2 separate regions of the Homo sapiens genome follow, and region 1 is linked to region 2. A link means that fine-mapping ties the variant in region 2 to the expression of a gene that starts in the linked region. Tissue or cell type: iPS cells. Region 2 holds a variant in brackets; the other region holds the start of a gene. All regions are shown on one strand. Distances are between the middles of the regions.

What was found. PIP is the estimated chance that this variant, and not a neighbour inherited with it, causes the effect.
Region 1: RANGAP1 starts here. The variant in region 2 is fine-mapped to the expression of RANGAP1 in iPS cells (HipSci, PIP 0.92).

The regions. Positions count from the first base shown.
Region 1 is chr22:41,282,229-41,290,330 of GRCh38, forward strand. RANGAP1 (Ran GTPase activating protein 1) reads right to left here and starts at 3,959. Exons shown (of 16, transcript NM_002883.4): 1 at 3,758-3,959. RefSeq lists enhancers at 3,662-3,731, 4,162-4,381, 4,412-4,481, 4,802-4,851, 7,362-7,961.
Region 2 is chr22:41,240,560-41,248,661 of GRCh38, forward strand. CHADL (chondroadherin like) reads right to left here and starts at 372. Exons shown (of 6, transcript NM_138481.2): 1 at 315-372. The coding sequence starts at 322. RANGAP1 (Ran GTPase activating protein 1) reads right to left here. Exons shown (of 16, transcript NM_002883.4): 16 at 4,220-6,113. The coding sequence ends at 6,044. RefSeq lists enhancers at 1-475, 476-976. The variant CA/C (reference allele first, on the strand shown) is at 3,362.

The DNA of each region.
Region 1 (8,102 bases), 42 kb after region 2:
GAGTTCAAAGCTGCAGTAAGCTATGACTGCCACTGCACTCCAGCCTGGGCAACAGCGGGAGGCTCTATCTCTAAAAGTAACTAAATAAATGAAAGAATTTTTTTTTTTTGAGACGGAGTCTCGCTCAGTCGCCCAGGCTGGAGCACAGTGGCGCCATCTGGGCTCACTGCAAGCTCCGCCTCCAAGGTTCATGTCATTCTCCTGCCTCAGCCTCCTGAGTAGCTGGGATTACAGGCACCCACCACCATGTCCAGCTAATTTTTTTGTATTTTTAGTAGAGACAGGGTTTCACCGTGTGTTAGCCAGGATGGTCTCGATCTCCTGACCTCGTGATCCACTCGCCTCAGCCTCCCAAAGTGCTGGGATTACACGCATGAGCCACCACGCTTGGCCAATAAATGAAAATTTTTAAAACAAGTAAAGCTTTGAGAACTCCTGCGCCTGCTCATGGTACTCCAGCTTTACTTGGAGTACATGTGAGATTAAATGTCTCAATGTGTACTGCCTATAAATTGAAGCCAGCTATATTAGACAGGAACGTGGAACATCACTACATACCTGAATAGTGTTTACTTTGTGGTATGAATAAACGTATCTGTGAGATGCTCCAAAAAAAGAAAAGAAACAGCAAGTAATCAGGAGAGACCAAGGAAGCAGATATGAGGGGCAGAACTAGGGGGTGCTATCCGAAAGGCCTCCTCCTACAACCTCCTCATTCTCAGATACAGTTGTGATACCCTGAATCCTCCCACCCCTAGGCTTCCTCTGGGTTCTAACTTATAACCCTGGTTTGTCTGCCTTTATCAATAAGCATGAATTATTATCCTGGGTAAGGTGTCCACTCATTCATTCAAAAACACATTGATTACTACTGTGTGCTGGATGTTGTTCCAGGTCAGCAGTATAGCAGTAAAGGAAGCATAAACCCTGACCTCTTGAAGCATATGTTCTAAATGACACATTTAGTATGTGATTTAAAAAAAAAAGGGGGGGGTTGGGGGGCCGGGAGTGGTGGTTCACGGCTGTAATCTCAGCACTTTGGGAGACCGAGGCAGGTGGATCACGAGGTCAGGAGTTCAAGACCAGCCAGGCCAACATGGTGAAACCCCGTCTCTACTAAAAATACAAAAATTAGCTGGGCGTGGTGGCACACGCCTTTAGTCCCAGCTACTCGGGAGGTTGAGGCAGGAGAATTGCTTGAACCCGGGAGGCGGAGGTTGCAGTGAGCCAAGATCGCGCCATTGCATTCCAGCCTGGCGACAGAGCAAGACTCCAACTCAAAACAAACAAATAACAACAACAACAACAAAAAGGCATTAACAACAACAACAAAAAGGCATTATTAGGAAATAGTTAAATAAAGATATCAGGGATTGGGCCATGCACACATCTGGGGGAACATGATTCCTGCAAAGGGAATAGCAAATGCAATGGCTCTTGTAGGGGCAGAGGGTTGGAGAAACTGCAACAGGGCCAGTGGGGCTGAAGCACAGAGAGAGAGGAAAAAAACAAGGTAAGAGAAGAGACAGTTAACAAGGGGCCCAAGTCATAAAGCCCATTTGAAGAACAGTGGCTTTCGCTATAAGTGACAAGGAAAACCACTGAAGTTTTTAGCAGAAAGCAGATGTCATCTGACGTACATTTTGACAGGATCACTCTACTTGCCACATAGAGCCTGGCATTTAGAAGGTGCTCAAGAAACGACCAGTTGAAATTGCATAAAAATTAACCAGGCCAGGGCCGGGCGCAAAGGCTCACACCTATAATCCTAGTACTTTGGGAGGCTGAGGTGGGCGGATCACGAGGTCAGGAGATCGAGACCATCCTGGCTAACACGGTGAAACCCGTCTCCACTAAAAATACAAAAAATTAGCCGGGCCTGGTGGCGGGGGCCTGTAGTCCCAGCTACTCGGGAGGCTGAGGCAAGAGAATGGCATGAACCCGGTAGGTGGAGCTTGCAGTGAGCTGAGATTGCGCCACTGCACTCCAGCCTGGGCAACAGAGCGAGACTCACCTCAAAAAAATAAAATAAAATAAAATAAAATAAAAATTAACCAGGCCGGGTGCGGTAGCTCACGCCTATAATCTCAGCACTTTGGGAGGCTGAGGTGGGTGGATTACCTGAGGTCGGGAGTTCGAGACCACCCTGGCCAACATGGAGAAACCCTGTCTCTACCAAAAATACAAAATTAACCGGGCGTGGTGGCACATGCCTGTAATCCCAGCTACTCAGGAGGCTGAGGCAGGAGAATCGCTTGAATCTGGGAGGCAGATGTTGGGGTGAGCTGAGATCGTGGCATTGCACTCCAACGTGGGCAACAAGAGTGAAACTCCGTCTCAAAAAAAAAAAAAATTAACCAGAGTCGGGTGTAATGGTTCACTCCTGCAATCCCAGCATTTCCGGAGGCTGAGGTGGGCGGATCGATTGAGCACAGGAGTTAGAAACCAGCCTGGGCAGTATGCCGAAACCCTGTCTCCACTAAAAATACAAAAACTAGCTGGGTGTGGTGGCAGGTGCCTGCAGTCCCAGCTACCTGGGATGTAAGGTGGGAGGATCACTTGAGCCCCGTAGGTGGAGGCTACAGTGAGCTGAGATCTTGCTGCTGTACTTCTGGAGACCCTGTTTCAAAAAATAAATTAACCAGAAACCAGCCCAGTGCAATAACTCACACCTGTAATTCCAACATTTTGGGAGGCTAGGCGGGAAGATCACTTTAGACCAGGGTTCGAGACAAGCCTGGGCAACAGAATGAGACCCTGTCTCCACAGAAAAATTTAAAAATTAGCCAGGTGTGATGGCATCTGTAGTCCCCATGACTTGGGAGGTTGAGGTGGGAGGATCGCTTGAGCCCAGGAAGCCGACGCTGCAGTTCAGCGGTGATCGTTCCACTACACTCCAGCCTGGGTGACAGAAGGAGACCGTCTCTAAAAAGATAAAAAAATTTAAAGAAAAACCAACAAAAAAATTAACCTGAAACCCCAGCATCTCTTGCAGTTCTGAGATGGGACAATTTGAGGGTAAAAGGTGGTGGTGAAGCCTCCAGATAGAATAGGGACAGAACTTCTCAGCTGAACGGGGGCCCATTCCTCAGTCCAAGAGAGAGCGAGACAGAGATGCACCCCTCCACACTCACTTTATAAACCAAGAAACTGGAGCACAGAAACGTAAATTGATTTGTCCAAGGTCAGCAAAGGATCAGCGCCAGAGCAAAAGCAAAGGGCTAATAGAGAAACATCCTCTCCCCGCTCCGCAGCAACGTCAGAGACTTTCTGAGGTGAGATGCATGCTCCTGCAAAGCGTCAGCAGTGACTCACATCGATTCCAGGGACAGCGGCGCCAGCCCGGGGCCCCCGCGGGCGTGGGCCTGCTGGGAGGTGGCTCTGCGGGAGCGACGCGCGAATACAGGCCGCAAATGATAGGCGGGCGGCGCAGGAGCCCCATCTGGAATCCCCGGCGGACTCGCACCGCCTCCGGTTGACAACAATGCTAATATGAGACGCCACTGCTAGCAGCTGCAGGCTGAGCTGCTCTGGCGAGTCAGACGCCCTTTAAGCCTCAGTTTCCCCATTTGTGAAAGGAGCCAGCGCCGCTCAACAACCCCACTCCCACCGCCACCCCTGGGGCGCTCGGCCGTCGAAGGCTAAGTGAAGAAGGCCGAGGGGGCAGGCAGAAGGCGCACACGGGCGCCACGCCCTCCTCGCCCCGCACCCCTGTTCCAGGCAGGTGACGGGGAAAGGAAAGGGACCCTGACTCTACCGTAAACAGGCGGCGCCGCCGCGTGGGGGGAATCGAGCGCGCGCCTCCGCCCTCTGGGGCGGGGACGGATTTAGGGTCCGGGTCAGGCCGGGGTCGCCACCTCCGGATCCAGCGGTCCAGATGTCCAGCCGGCTAGTCTGTTAGCTCTCTCGAGCTCCCGGCCTCACGCGCTTCCAGCACCACCTGCTCTCCGCACCGCGGCGGATGATGGCGGAGGAGGAGGATTTTGAAAGCCGGCAGTTTCTTTGCTTCGATTTGATTTGTTCGAGGCCCCGGCCGGCTTGCCCTCGCCCCGCTCGCGCGGCCTCTCGGGTAGAGTAGTCCGGTTCCCCATCTGGGAGCGCGATGGGGCGCGCACCGCGAACTACCCGTCCCATGGCGCACCGCGCGCAGAGCGTCCTCCACCGCCCTCCTCTTCGCCCTCCCCTGGTGGCTTCTGGCTCTTTCTCGCAGAGACCGCAGGGAGGTGTTCAGCCGGGAGCGCCCAGAGACTACAATTCCCAGAATGCGTTGCACCCAGGTCCCTCAGCTCTTCCGGAAAGGTTTTGTTCGCGTAACTTTGTTGATAACAGGTACTGCTGGCTGCTGGGTCTCTTGGGCAAGACACAGGTATCCATTTCCCGAAAGAAAAGACTCTTTTCCGTCCCATGAAACTGAAAGGGCATTCGAAGGCTTCCACATAAATATGCACAAATTACCTGATAATTAAAAAGGGGAAATAGTAACTATCGTAGAGAAGCTCCGCAGACACCACTTGAACGGCCACGTTAACATCAACAGCAGGACAAGCTGACATTCATCGCACGCTTTCTGTGTGATGCACTGAGAAAAACACGGCGTCACCGTCCGGTCTATAATGCATGACCTTAGTCTAATCATGAGAAACCCAAGCTGAGGGACATGGTACAGAATAACTGATCTGTACCCTTCCGGAAATGTCTGTATTATGTAAGACAAAGAAAAACTGAGGAACTGTTGCCGATTACAGGAAACGAAAAAGACAACTGAATGCAAGACATGGTCCTGGATCGGATCCTGGGTGGGGATTGCTATAAAGGACAATACTGAAACAGCAAAACTTGACTATATTAGATAATAGTATTGTATCAATGTTAAATTTATTAATTTTGATTATGGTACAGGGTTATGTAAGAGACTGCCCTTGTTCTTGGAAAAAAATGCTGAAATAATTAGGGACAAAAAGGACATGATGTCTGCAACCTTTATGGTTAAAAGAAATATACCTATACATATACATAGAGAAAGCAGAGACACAAATGTGGCAAAATGTTAATCAGTTAATCTGGTTGAAGAATATGGGAGTTCTTTGAACATTTTTGCAACTTTTCTGTAGGTGTGAATTTAAGCATAAAAACACAAACAGCGTTTTTTTTTTGTTTTTTTTTTTTGAGATGGAGTTTCACTCTTGTTGCCCATCTTGGCCTCCCAAAGTGTTGGGATTATAGGCGAGAGAGTGTGAGACCAGCCTGGGCAACATGGTCAAACCCTGTCTCGACAAAAAATACAAAAATTAGTTGGACGTGATGGTGCAAGCCTGTAGTCTCAGCTAAGGGCCTGAGGCAGGAGGATCTGGAGCCTGGGAGCTTGAGGCTGCAGTGAGCCGTGATTGCACCACTGCATTTCAGCCCTGGCGACAGAGCAAGACCTTGTCTCAAAAACTGAAAAAAGAAAAAAAAAAAAAGTTAAACAGATCATGCAGGCTGGGCGCAGTGGCTCACACCTGTAATCCCAGCACTTTGGGAGGCCGAGGCGGGCGGATCACCTGAGGTCAGGAGTTTGAGACCAGCCTGACCAAAATGGAGAAACCCCGTCTCTACTAAAAATATAAAATTAGCTGGGCATGGTGACGCATGCCTGGAATCCCAGCTACTCGGGAGGCTGAGGCAGAAGAATCGCTTGAACCCGGGAGGCGGAGGTTGCAGTGAGCCGAGACGCACCATTGCACTCCAGCCTGGGCAACAAGAGCGAAACTCCGTCTCTAAATAAATAAATAAATTAATTAATTAATTAACAGATCATGCCATATCCTTTTACACACAGCTCATTTAATCTTCACCACCACAAGGGAAGTGGGCATCATTACCACCCTTCCCAGCACAGAGATGAGAAAACTGAAGCTCTAGACAGAGTGTAACTCTCCCAGTTCTCAAAGTTCCTGAGATGTGGATCCTCTTTCCACCTTCCCTCTCCTTTTTACCTACAAGGCCCATGTCAAATGCTACTTCATGAGTCTCTCCCTCCTGCAGGTGCCCACAGCAAGATGCAAAGCCCCACAGCAGTTGGCCTGGGACTCTGGGGCTCTTTGACAGAGTTAACACTGTTCTTGGCAGTTTCCTCCTCAGCCTGGGAGGGTCTCCAGAGCAGACGCTGTATCCATCTGGGCAGTATCTTCTCTGGGCCTGGCCTGTCATAGGTGCTTCAGGTTTCCCCATTTGAACCAGATACCAGTCGGGTTACCGGATGTTTGCTTAAAATGAGTCATAGGCTTCCTGCTATTCCTGTGCTGCTTCCAGCTAGGACTGATCGAATCAGTCTGGATTTTCCTTGGGGTGATCCGCAGGCTCCCTTTTCCAATTTTACTTCTTGAGACTTTCCTTGGCCCTCACACAGAGACCTCCCAAAGGGAAGAGGAAGGTGGGCAGGGGAACATCTTAGCTGATCCCGTCCTCATCCAGCTGATAGGACATTGGGTTTTCGGAACTGGAAGGGAATTCTTAGACAACAGAAATTCAGTGGCCTTCAAGGACCTGGGAGGTAACAGGAAGTCATGGGGCTTGTCGGGGCTTGGTGGGGCTTGGGGGGAGTTAGAGAGTGGATGTTCTGCCTGAAGGTGTTCACATTCGAAGCTAAAAATCACAAACTCAGCCTGACAGCACCCCCTAGCAATCTGGATTCTGTCACTCCTATATCCTGATTTTTTTTTTTTTTTTTTTTGAGATGGAGTTTCACTCTGTTGCTCAGGCTGGAGTGCAGTGGTGCGATCTCAGCTCACTGCAACCTCCGCCTCCCAGGTTCAAGTGATTCTTCTGCCTCAGCCTCCCGAGTAGCTGGGACTACAGGTGCACGCCACCACGCCCGGCTAATTTTTGTATTTTTAGTAGAGACGGTTTCACCATATTGGCCAGGATGGTCTCAAACTCCTGACCTGGTGATCCACTTACCTCGGCCTCCCAAAGTGCTGGGAGTACAGTACAGGCGTGAGCCACTGTGGCCGGCCTCCTGAATCTATCTTAAACCTCTTTACAAATGGGGAGACTGGGGTTTGAAAAGGAACAGGGGGTTTGCCCAAGGGTGCCCAGTGAATCAGAAGAATCAAGAATCATCACTGTTTCTGGCCGGGCACAGTGGCTCATGCCTGTAATCCCAGCACTTCGGGAGGGCGAGGCAGGTGGATCATCTGACGTCAGGAATTCGAGACCAGCCTGGCCAACATGGTGAAACCCTGTCTCTACTAAAAATACAAAAAATTAGCTGGGCATGGTGGCAGACACCTGTAATCCCAGCTACTCGGGAGGCTGGGGCAGGAGAATCTCTTGAACCCAAGAGGCGGAGGTTGCAGTGAGCTGAGATCACGCCATTGCACTCCAGCCTAGGCAACAAGAGCAAAATTCTGCCTCAAAAAAAAGAATCATCACTGTTTCCAAGCAACACACTTATCTTCTCTCTTTCTCCTTCCAGCCCTTTCTCCAGCTTTCTCTCTTTCAAGTTATCACCTGAGAGCTAGTCTGCCTGGCCCAAGAAGTGTAATCATGGCCTTTGACAGATGGATAGTGTCATCCAAGACTATCTTGTTCCTTATTTCAACAAATGAAGAACTAAGGCCCAAGTTACAGTGTGACTTACACATGAGACAAGGCTGAGCATGGTGGCTCACAACCAACTGTAATGCCAGCACTGTGGGAGGCCAAGGCAGGAAGATTGCTAAAGCCCAGGATTTGAGACCAGTCTGGGCAATATAGTGAGACTCTGTCTCTACTAAAAACAATTAGCCAGGCATGGTGGTACATACTTGGAGTCCCAGCTACTAGGGAGGCTGATGCAGGAGGATCCTTGAGCCCAGAACGTGGAGGTTGGTTGCAGTGAGCCATGGTCAGGCCACTGCACTCCAGCCTGAATGATAGAACAAGACCCTGTCTCAAAGAAAAAAAAAAAAGAGAGAGAGAGAGAGAGAGAAAGAGAATAGAAGACAGGTCTCTAGGGTCCTTTTCTATTATTATTATTACTTTTTTTTTTTTTTTTTTGAGATGGAGTCTCACTCTGTCACCCAGGCTGGAGTGCAATGGCACAATCAAGGCTCACTGTAACCTCTGCCTCCCGGGTTCAA
Region 2 (8,102 bases):
CTGTGGTGAAGGCTGTGCCTCAGGGCAGGCCAGGGAGGGGACCCATGGGGACAGATCGCTGAAGCGACAAGCATTCATAATGCAGGGACCACTGCTGGGCTCTCAGACAAGCCCCAGAGGACCAGTTCCTGGCAGTGGCCACATTGCCACGTGTCTCAGAGCCCACCTTGGGAGACCCCCTTCCTGGAGAACCCCAGGAAGTCCCCAGAGCCCCTGCCCGCCAGCCTCTGAGAGGCCCAGAGGGGGCAGAGACTTACCTGAGGCCACTGAGCTGCTCTGAATCCCCCCTTGCACCATCGGGCCCAAAGACTCACCCCTCCATGCCGCCTGGAACTGCTGGTCCAGCCTGGAGGCGCAGCGCAGGGACAGGCTGTCCCCGCCTGGCAGGAGCCCCCCTCCACGGCCCGCAGGCCTGGCAGCTGGGACAGGGCTGAATGGGAGGCATTGTCGGCAGACCAGGCAAGCCAGGCTTCCCCAGGCTGAGGTGAAGAAGGGGCGGGCGGCGGGCGGGAGCAGCGGCTGGAGTTACAGGGCCTCCTGCCTGCCCCAGCCGAGGACTGAGGCCCCGGCCTGAATCCTTGGGCCAGCCCGACAGGGAGGGGGCACCAGCAGCTGGCCCGGGAGTCAGCAGTCCTGGGCTCCCTCCTGCCATGTGGGCTGCCCTCCCAGAGGCTGCTTCCTAGTCTCTGAAAAACACATCCCATTAATAAGTAGCTCTGAGGTCACAGTGGGGGTTCAGGCCCGCACCTGGCACACAGTGGGTGCTTCAGAACAGGTGACCCTTTCCTTCCGTTTGTGCTTACACATTGACATAAATAGTTTAATACTGGACACACAGGATTCTAGACACTCATTTTTTTCACTTAACCTCAGATTACTGGGAGTTATCCAAATTGACTCTTCCGAATCTCATTATTCTGTGGTATATAGTATTCCATTGTGTAAATGTATCACATTGACTTAGCCATTCATCTTGGACATTGGCTACCTCCAATTTTTTGCTATTTACAAACAATATTGCAAAGAATATCCAAATACGCATCTTCCCAAGCTCGTGTTTGTTTTTTAAATAATACATCCAGACCATGGCCAATGTTCATGTATCTTGATTTTTCAGATTCCTGCTTCTGATGGAATTGCATCTTCTACTGTTTGTTCCTTTAATTGGAAACAGGGGTCAGGCACAGTGGCTCATGCCTGTAATCCCAGCACTTTGGGAGGCTGAGGTGGGAGGATCACTTGAGCCCAGGAGTTTGAGACCAGCCTGGGCAACACAGACTCTGTCTCAAGAGAAAAAAAAAAGGCCGGGCGCGGTGGCTCACGCCTGTAATCCCAGCACTTTGGGAGGCGGAGGCGGGTGGATCACGAGGTCGAGATCAAGACCATCCTGGCTAACACAGTGAAACCCTATCTCTACTAAAAGTACAAAAAATTAGCCGGGTGTGGTGGCAGGCGCCTGTAGTCCCAGCTACTTGGGAGGCTGAGGCAGGCAAATGGCATGAACGCGAGAGCCGAGATGGCGCCACTGCACTCTAGCCTGGGCAACAGAGTGAAACTGTCTCAAAAAAGAAAAAAAATATATACATATATATATATATATATATATATATATATATATATATATATATATATATGTATGTGTGTGTGTATACACTTATGTGTGTATATATTTATATATAATAAAAATATAAATGTATATGTTTATATATATTTATATATGTTAAACAATGAACATCTGTGTGTACTTTTCCTAGACTGCAGGAGTTTTTTGTTTTTTGAGACAGAGTCTCACTTTATCGCCCAGGCTGGAGCTCACTGCAACCTCCACCTCCCTGGTTCATGCGATTCTCCTGCCTCAGCTTCCCAAGTAGCTGGGATGACAGATGTGTACCACCACATCTGGTTAATTTTTGCATTTTTAGTAGAGACGGGGTTTCGCCATGTTGGCCAGGCCGGTCCCGAACTCCTGACCTCAAGTGATCTGCCCGCCTTGATCTCCCAAAGTGCTGGGATTACAGGCATGAGTCACCACGCCCAGCCCTGCAGTAACATTTTAAAAAAAGAAATAGTGCCATGCCACACAGCCATCTGCTTTGTGCTTTTTTTGCTTGGCAAATTCCAATCAATGGAACTTCAGTGTGCTCTTTCGTCCTTTTTTTGAGACAGGGTCTCACTGTTGCCCAGGTGTGAGTGAAGTGTGATCATGGCTCACTGCGGCCTTGACATACCAGCCTCCCAAGCAGCTGGGACCTCCAGATATGCACCGCCACCTCCAGCTGGTTTTAAAATTTGTTGTAGAGTTGGGGTCTTGCTATGTTGTCCAGGCTGGTCTTGAACTCCGGGGCACAAGTGATCCTCCCACCTCGGCCTCCCAAAGCGTTAGGATTACAGGCATGAGCCACTGCACCTGGCTGTGTCTGGCGTTTTCCACTCAATATTATGTTAGTGAGAATCATCTTTTTATTTTTTTTTTGAGACGGAGTCTAGCTCTCGTTGCCCAGGCTAGAGTACAGTGGCGTGATCTCAGCTCACTGCAACCTCCGCCTCCCAGGTTCAAGGAATTCTGCTTCAGCTTCCCGAGTAGCTGGGATTACAGGCACCCGCCACCACACCCAGCTAATTTTTGTATTTTTAGTAGAGACGGGTCTCACCATATTGGCCAGGCAGGTCACAAACTCCTGACCTCAAGTGATCCGCCCGCCTCAACCTCCCAAAGTCCTAGGATTTACAGGTGTGAGCCCGCACCCGGCTTCATCTATTTTAATTTTTTTTTTAAATTCAGCATTCCAGCCTTCCATTCTATAAATATATGACAACAGTGGCATGGGGCAGGGGCGGGAGGCAGTCTGCCCACAATGCAGGCAGTAAGCGGGTGTGCTGTCAGTGGAGAAGTGAGACACAATGGAACTGACTTAAAGTTGGTCTCTGCTTTTTATTATCATGTGCTGACAAGTCTAAACAATGTCAATGCTAAAATATTTCTTCTTGGGCAGACCATTCCTACCTTCTCGGTACCACACCGTACCACAAGTAGCTTACCCATTCCTCTAGTGATAGACATTTGGGTTGTTTCCAGCATGGGTTTATTAGAAAGAGCACTGTAGCCGGGCATGGTGGTTCATGCCTGTTAAGTGAGCTGAGGCGGGAGGATCACTTGAGCCCAATAATTCAAGACCAGCCTGGACAACACAATGAGACCCTGTCTTTACAAAAAAAAGCTGAACGTGGTGGCTTGTGACATGGTCCCAGCTACTTGGGAGGCTGAGGCACGAAGACTAAGTGAGCCCAGGAGGTCGAGGCTGCAGTGAGCTGTGATCACACCACTGCACCCCAGCCTGGGTGACATGGCAAGACCCTGTCT[CA/C]AAAAAAAAAAAAAAAAAAAAAAAGGTTGTACCAATTTACACATCTGCCAGCCACTCCAGTTGCCCCAAATCCTCACCAAACTTGGTACTGTATTTTGTATTTTAGCCATTCTAGTGAGGGCATAAGAGTGTCACACTGTGATTATGTTTCTCTGGGAGGATCACCTGAGCCCGGGGGGTAGAGGCTGCAGTGAGCCGAGATAGAAGCTGGGCAACATGAGACCCTGTTTGAAAAAAATTAAAGTTATCCCCCCCACCCATATATATATACAGAGAGAGTTTAGGCAATTATTTTCTCCCTGTCTGTAAGTTGCCTTTGTACTCCTTAATGAGTATTTTGATAAACAGAAACCTGTTCTCACTGCTACATCATTTCCATTGTGTGAACATCCCACGATAATGGCAAAGGAGGTTAAATACAGCTTAATTTATTCATCTTTTCCTCACTCCTAAGGCCTTGAAGATACTCACTTACACTATCTCCTACAAGCTCTCTCTCTCTTTTTTGAGACAGGGTCTCGCTGTCAGTCATGCTGGAGTGCAGTGGCACGATCACGGCTTGCTGCAGCATCCACTTCTTGGGCTCAGGTGATCCTCCCACCTCAGGTTCCCAAGTAGCTGAGACTACAGGCATGCATCACCACACCCAGCTCATTTTTGTATTTTTAGTAGAGACAGGGTTTTGCCATGTTGGCCAGGCCAGTCTTGAATTCCTGGGCTCAAGTGATCTGCCCGCCTCGTCCTCCCAAAGTGCTAGGATTACTACAGGCGTGAGCCACCACACCCGGGTGAAGCTCTATAGTTTTGCTTAATTTTTAAAACATTAACTGAGGTAAAATATATTAATACATGAAATCTATCATTTTAACCATTTTTATGTGTACAATTCAGTGCATTAAGTACATTCACAATGTTATGCAACCATCACCACTCTCCATTTCCAGAACATCTTCATCATCCCAGAGAATCTGTTTGCAGCCTCACTCCCTATTCCACCCTTCCCCTAGCCCTGGCAACCTCTACCTTCTTGTCTCTGAATTTGCTTATTCTAGATGCCTCATCTAAATGGAATCATATTTGTCCTTTTGTGTCTGGCTTATTTCATTTAACATGTTTTCAAAGTTCATCCACGTTGTAGCTGGCATCAGAACTTAATGCCAGCCCCACACCCACCCCCTACCGTATCAACTCACACAGAAGACAGGGGACAGGGCCAGCAGTATCCTCTGCCACCTGGTCACCTACGTGGCCGACTGCCAATGAGAAAATATTGCCCTCTAAGAAACCTTGGAGGGACTTCTTGGAGGCCGTTTGTGGGGGACATGGGCTCCCAAAGCACATACATGGTGTAGGGTAGGAGGTAAGGAAGGTTGGCTGGGCTGTCCTCACATATGTGGCAGTGGAGCAAAGGATCCCAAGGGAGGTGGCTTCCATAGTGAAGGAGCAACGCAGAAGCCAAGCGAGCTGCAGCCCAAAGGCAGGGTGCTGGGTGAGGTGTGGCCAGGCAGGAAAATGGGCCCCCACTCAGGACTGCCACTTCCCAGGTAGTGGCCTGAGGCCGAGGCCGGGCCCTTCTGCAGGGCTGACTGCCCCACAGACTGCTGCGGGGCCGCATGCTCTGCCGAGGTGGGACTCCACGTACAACGGCCCCCGAGACTATCCCGCTTTCAGTGAGAGTTTCTGAGTCTCTGAAGCTGCCACACGACTTTATTTGTGAAGCCCCCGGGCACAGCCCAGACACACACAGAGCACAAAGGGGAAAGCATGGGGCAGTCACGGGTGCTCAGGGAGGTCATACAGCATCTGCCCAGTCCAGACCCTACCGCTCCCCTGCCCCAGGAGGTCCTTTAAGAGCAGCGTCCAGATGCAGCTCGGACATTGGGGACCCTGCCTCTCCCTCCCCAGACTGGAGAACAGCTTTGGGTTGTCAACACTCCCCCTCCAGCCAGGCCAGTCACAGACGACATCTCAGCAGCCAGGAGAAGGCCCACTAGGTCCGGGGCCAGCGCAGTCCCAGCAGCTCCTGCTCCTGGACAATCTGGTGTCTGCCTGTCCACACGGTGTGGGGCCCAGGGTTGCCCTCTGCCAACAACCCCACGATCCGACCCCCACAGTCCCACCCATGGCATTCTCTGCTCTTCAGGCTGAGCGGTCAGCACAGTGGTATGGATGGTAGGGGTGACAGCTGCCGCAGGACCAGGGCTTGGTGACGAGAAGCAGCCCCAGGCAGGGCAGGAAACAACCCAATCACAACACAGAGGGGAAGGACAGCACGCGGGCAACTCCCTGGGTTCTGGCTCCGCCAGGGAGCCGGGCCGGAAGGCAGGTGGGTGGGGACGGCCATCAGGGCCCAGGCGGAGATCAGCAGAGCGCCCTCAGGTGGAGGTGAGTTTAATGGCGGAGCAGCTCACAGCCCTTTCCCCTGGGGGCCAACTCCCCACAACAGAGCAGGGCTGGGCCAGCAGAAGACGTTAAAACCCAAATCCCGACAGGAGGCACAGACCTGCACATGCGCCACACCCACACACATACTCAGGGGACTGACAGGACACATGGGACACAGACCCGCCCTGCCTGTGGCCAGAGTCCTGTCCAAGGCAATGGCGTAGGCTGCGCCTCAGTTCATCCGAGTCCCTCCCCAGCTCACTGGTCCAGGCCAAGGGATGGGAGAGGCTTTGAGTCTAGACCTTGTACAGCGTCTGCAGCAGACTGTGGCGGGCGAAGGAGCAGGATTCCAGGGCGCTGTTGGGCCTGCGGGGAAAGAGGGGTCAGCAGGTCGGTGGATGCCTCTTGGCCTGTTTTCCAAGTGTGGGGGCCATTTTGGTGCCAGACTCATTTTTGTTAATTTGCACAACGACTCAGCAAGAGAGACATTAGCCCTCTGCCTTCTGCACACCGTGGGTGGGGATGGGAGGTGCGAGAGGCTCAGAGAGCCAGGCACCCAACGCCACACAGCCCAGAGCTGGCCAGAATGAAGGCCCCCTCAGCCAGGCTCTCCAAGGGCCCTTCCAGCAGACATAGGCCAGGGAATCCTTACTGGCTGCCAGTGGCCACATAGGACTGGCCCACTAGAGTCCAATCTGGATCATAAGTAAATGGCTAGCCATTGTTTTTTTGGTTGCTTTTTTTCTTTTTCTTTTTCTTTTTTTTTTGAGACGGAGTCTCGCTCTGTCACCCAGGCTGGAGTGCAGTGGTGCGATCTCGGCTCACTGCAAGCTCCGCCTCCCGAGTTCACGCCATTCTCCTGCCTCAGCCTCCCGAGTAGCTGGGACTACAGACGCCCACCACCATGCCCAGCTAATTTTTTGTATTTTTAGTAGAGACAGGGTTTCACCATGTTAGCCAGGATGGTCTTGATCTCCTGACCTCGTGATCCTCCCACCTCGGCCTCCCAAAGTGCTGGGATTATAGGCGTGAGCCACCGCGCCAGGCTGGTTGTTTTTTTCTTGAGACAGGGCCTCTCTTTGTTGCCCAGGCTGGAGTACAGTCCTGGAATCATGGCTCCCTGCATCCTCGACTTCCCAGGCTCAGGTGGTCCTCCTACCTCATCCTCCCAAGTAGCTGGGACCACAGGTACACACCACCACACCCGGCTAACTTTGTATTTTTTGTAGAGATGGGGTTTCACGAATGTTGCCCAGGCTGGCCTTGAACTCCCGGGCTCAAGTGATCCAGTTGCCTCAGCTTCCCAAAGTGCTGGGATTACAGATGGGAGCCACTGCGCCTGAGCTGGCTGTTGTTGCCCTCAATATCATTAGTTTCACTGCAAAGGAAGAAACTGAGGCAAGACTCTGGGGGACTGGGCAAGTGCGGGACGCAGCCAGGACCAGGCCTGACAACACCTCTGGCCTGAAGCCAGTGAACAGGCCAGGATCTGCGCCAGGCCGGGCATCCCAGACCATTTGGCTGGGAGCTGAGGGAAGAGGGTCCGTGCATGTCACTACATAGTTAATCAGTCACCTTGGACAAGACCCAGGGGGCAGACTGAGGCCTGTGCTGGAGGTTGGGCAACAAGCTGGGAAAAGGCATTTTGCTCTGACCAACAAGGGCAAGAGGCACATGCCCAGGCTTAGGATAGCACAGGGGCTGCCAGGGATACAGAGGGAACTACTCTGACCAGGGGGCAGGAAGGACACAAAGGGCTCAGGCGCAGACGGGGGCTGGGGCCACTGGCCAAACAAGCTCTGGACAGCATGGGCAAAGCTCGGCACTGCAGCAACAGCACTGCTATGGAAAGGGGCTCAGGGAGAGCACACTGTGCTGGGGTGGGGTGGGGTGGGGTCGGGGTGAGGCTGTGGCCAGCCATGAGATTCACAGTGAGGCTCTACCTAGCACCTGGCAGAGGAGGGGAACAGTGAGATCTGCCATTCACCAAGGCCAGTCCAGCTGCAGCCCAAGGGGTGGTCTGGTGTGGGGGAAATGCGGCCAGAAGGTAAGGCCTGGCTAAGGAGGCGGCGCCATGCAGACACTGGAGTGGACAGGGCTGCCGCGGCACCAGCTGGGTGCTGGAGGCCAGCGGGGGCCGCTCACGCTCCGCCAGCCCCGCCTCCCCACATGCACCAAGTATCCTGCCTCAGCTGGTGGGCTCTGGGCTCCCCCAGCAAAGGGACTTCCTTGCTCCTCTGCCTGCCCCATGTCCCCGGATGGCGCCGACTGACTGGAAGTGTGGCTGGTCAGGGCGCTTGGAGACAATCTCACCTAACCCCCCGGTTGGACAAATGGGGAGACTGAGGCCTGATG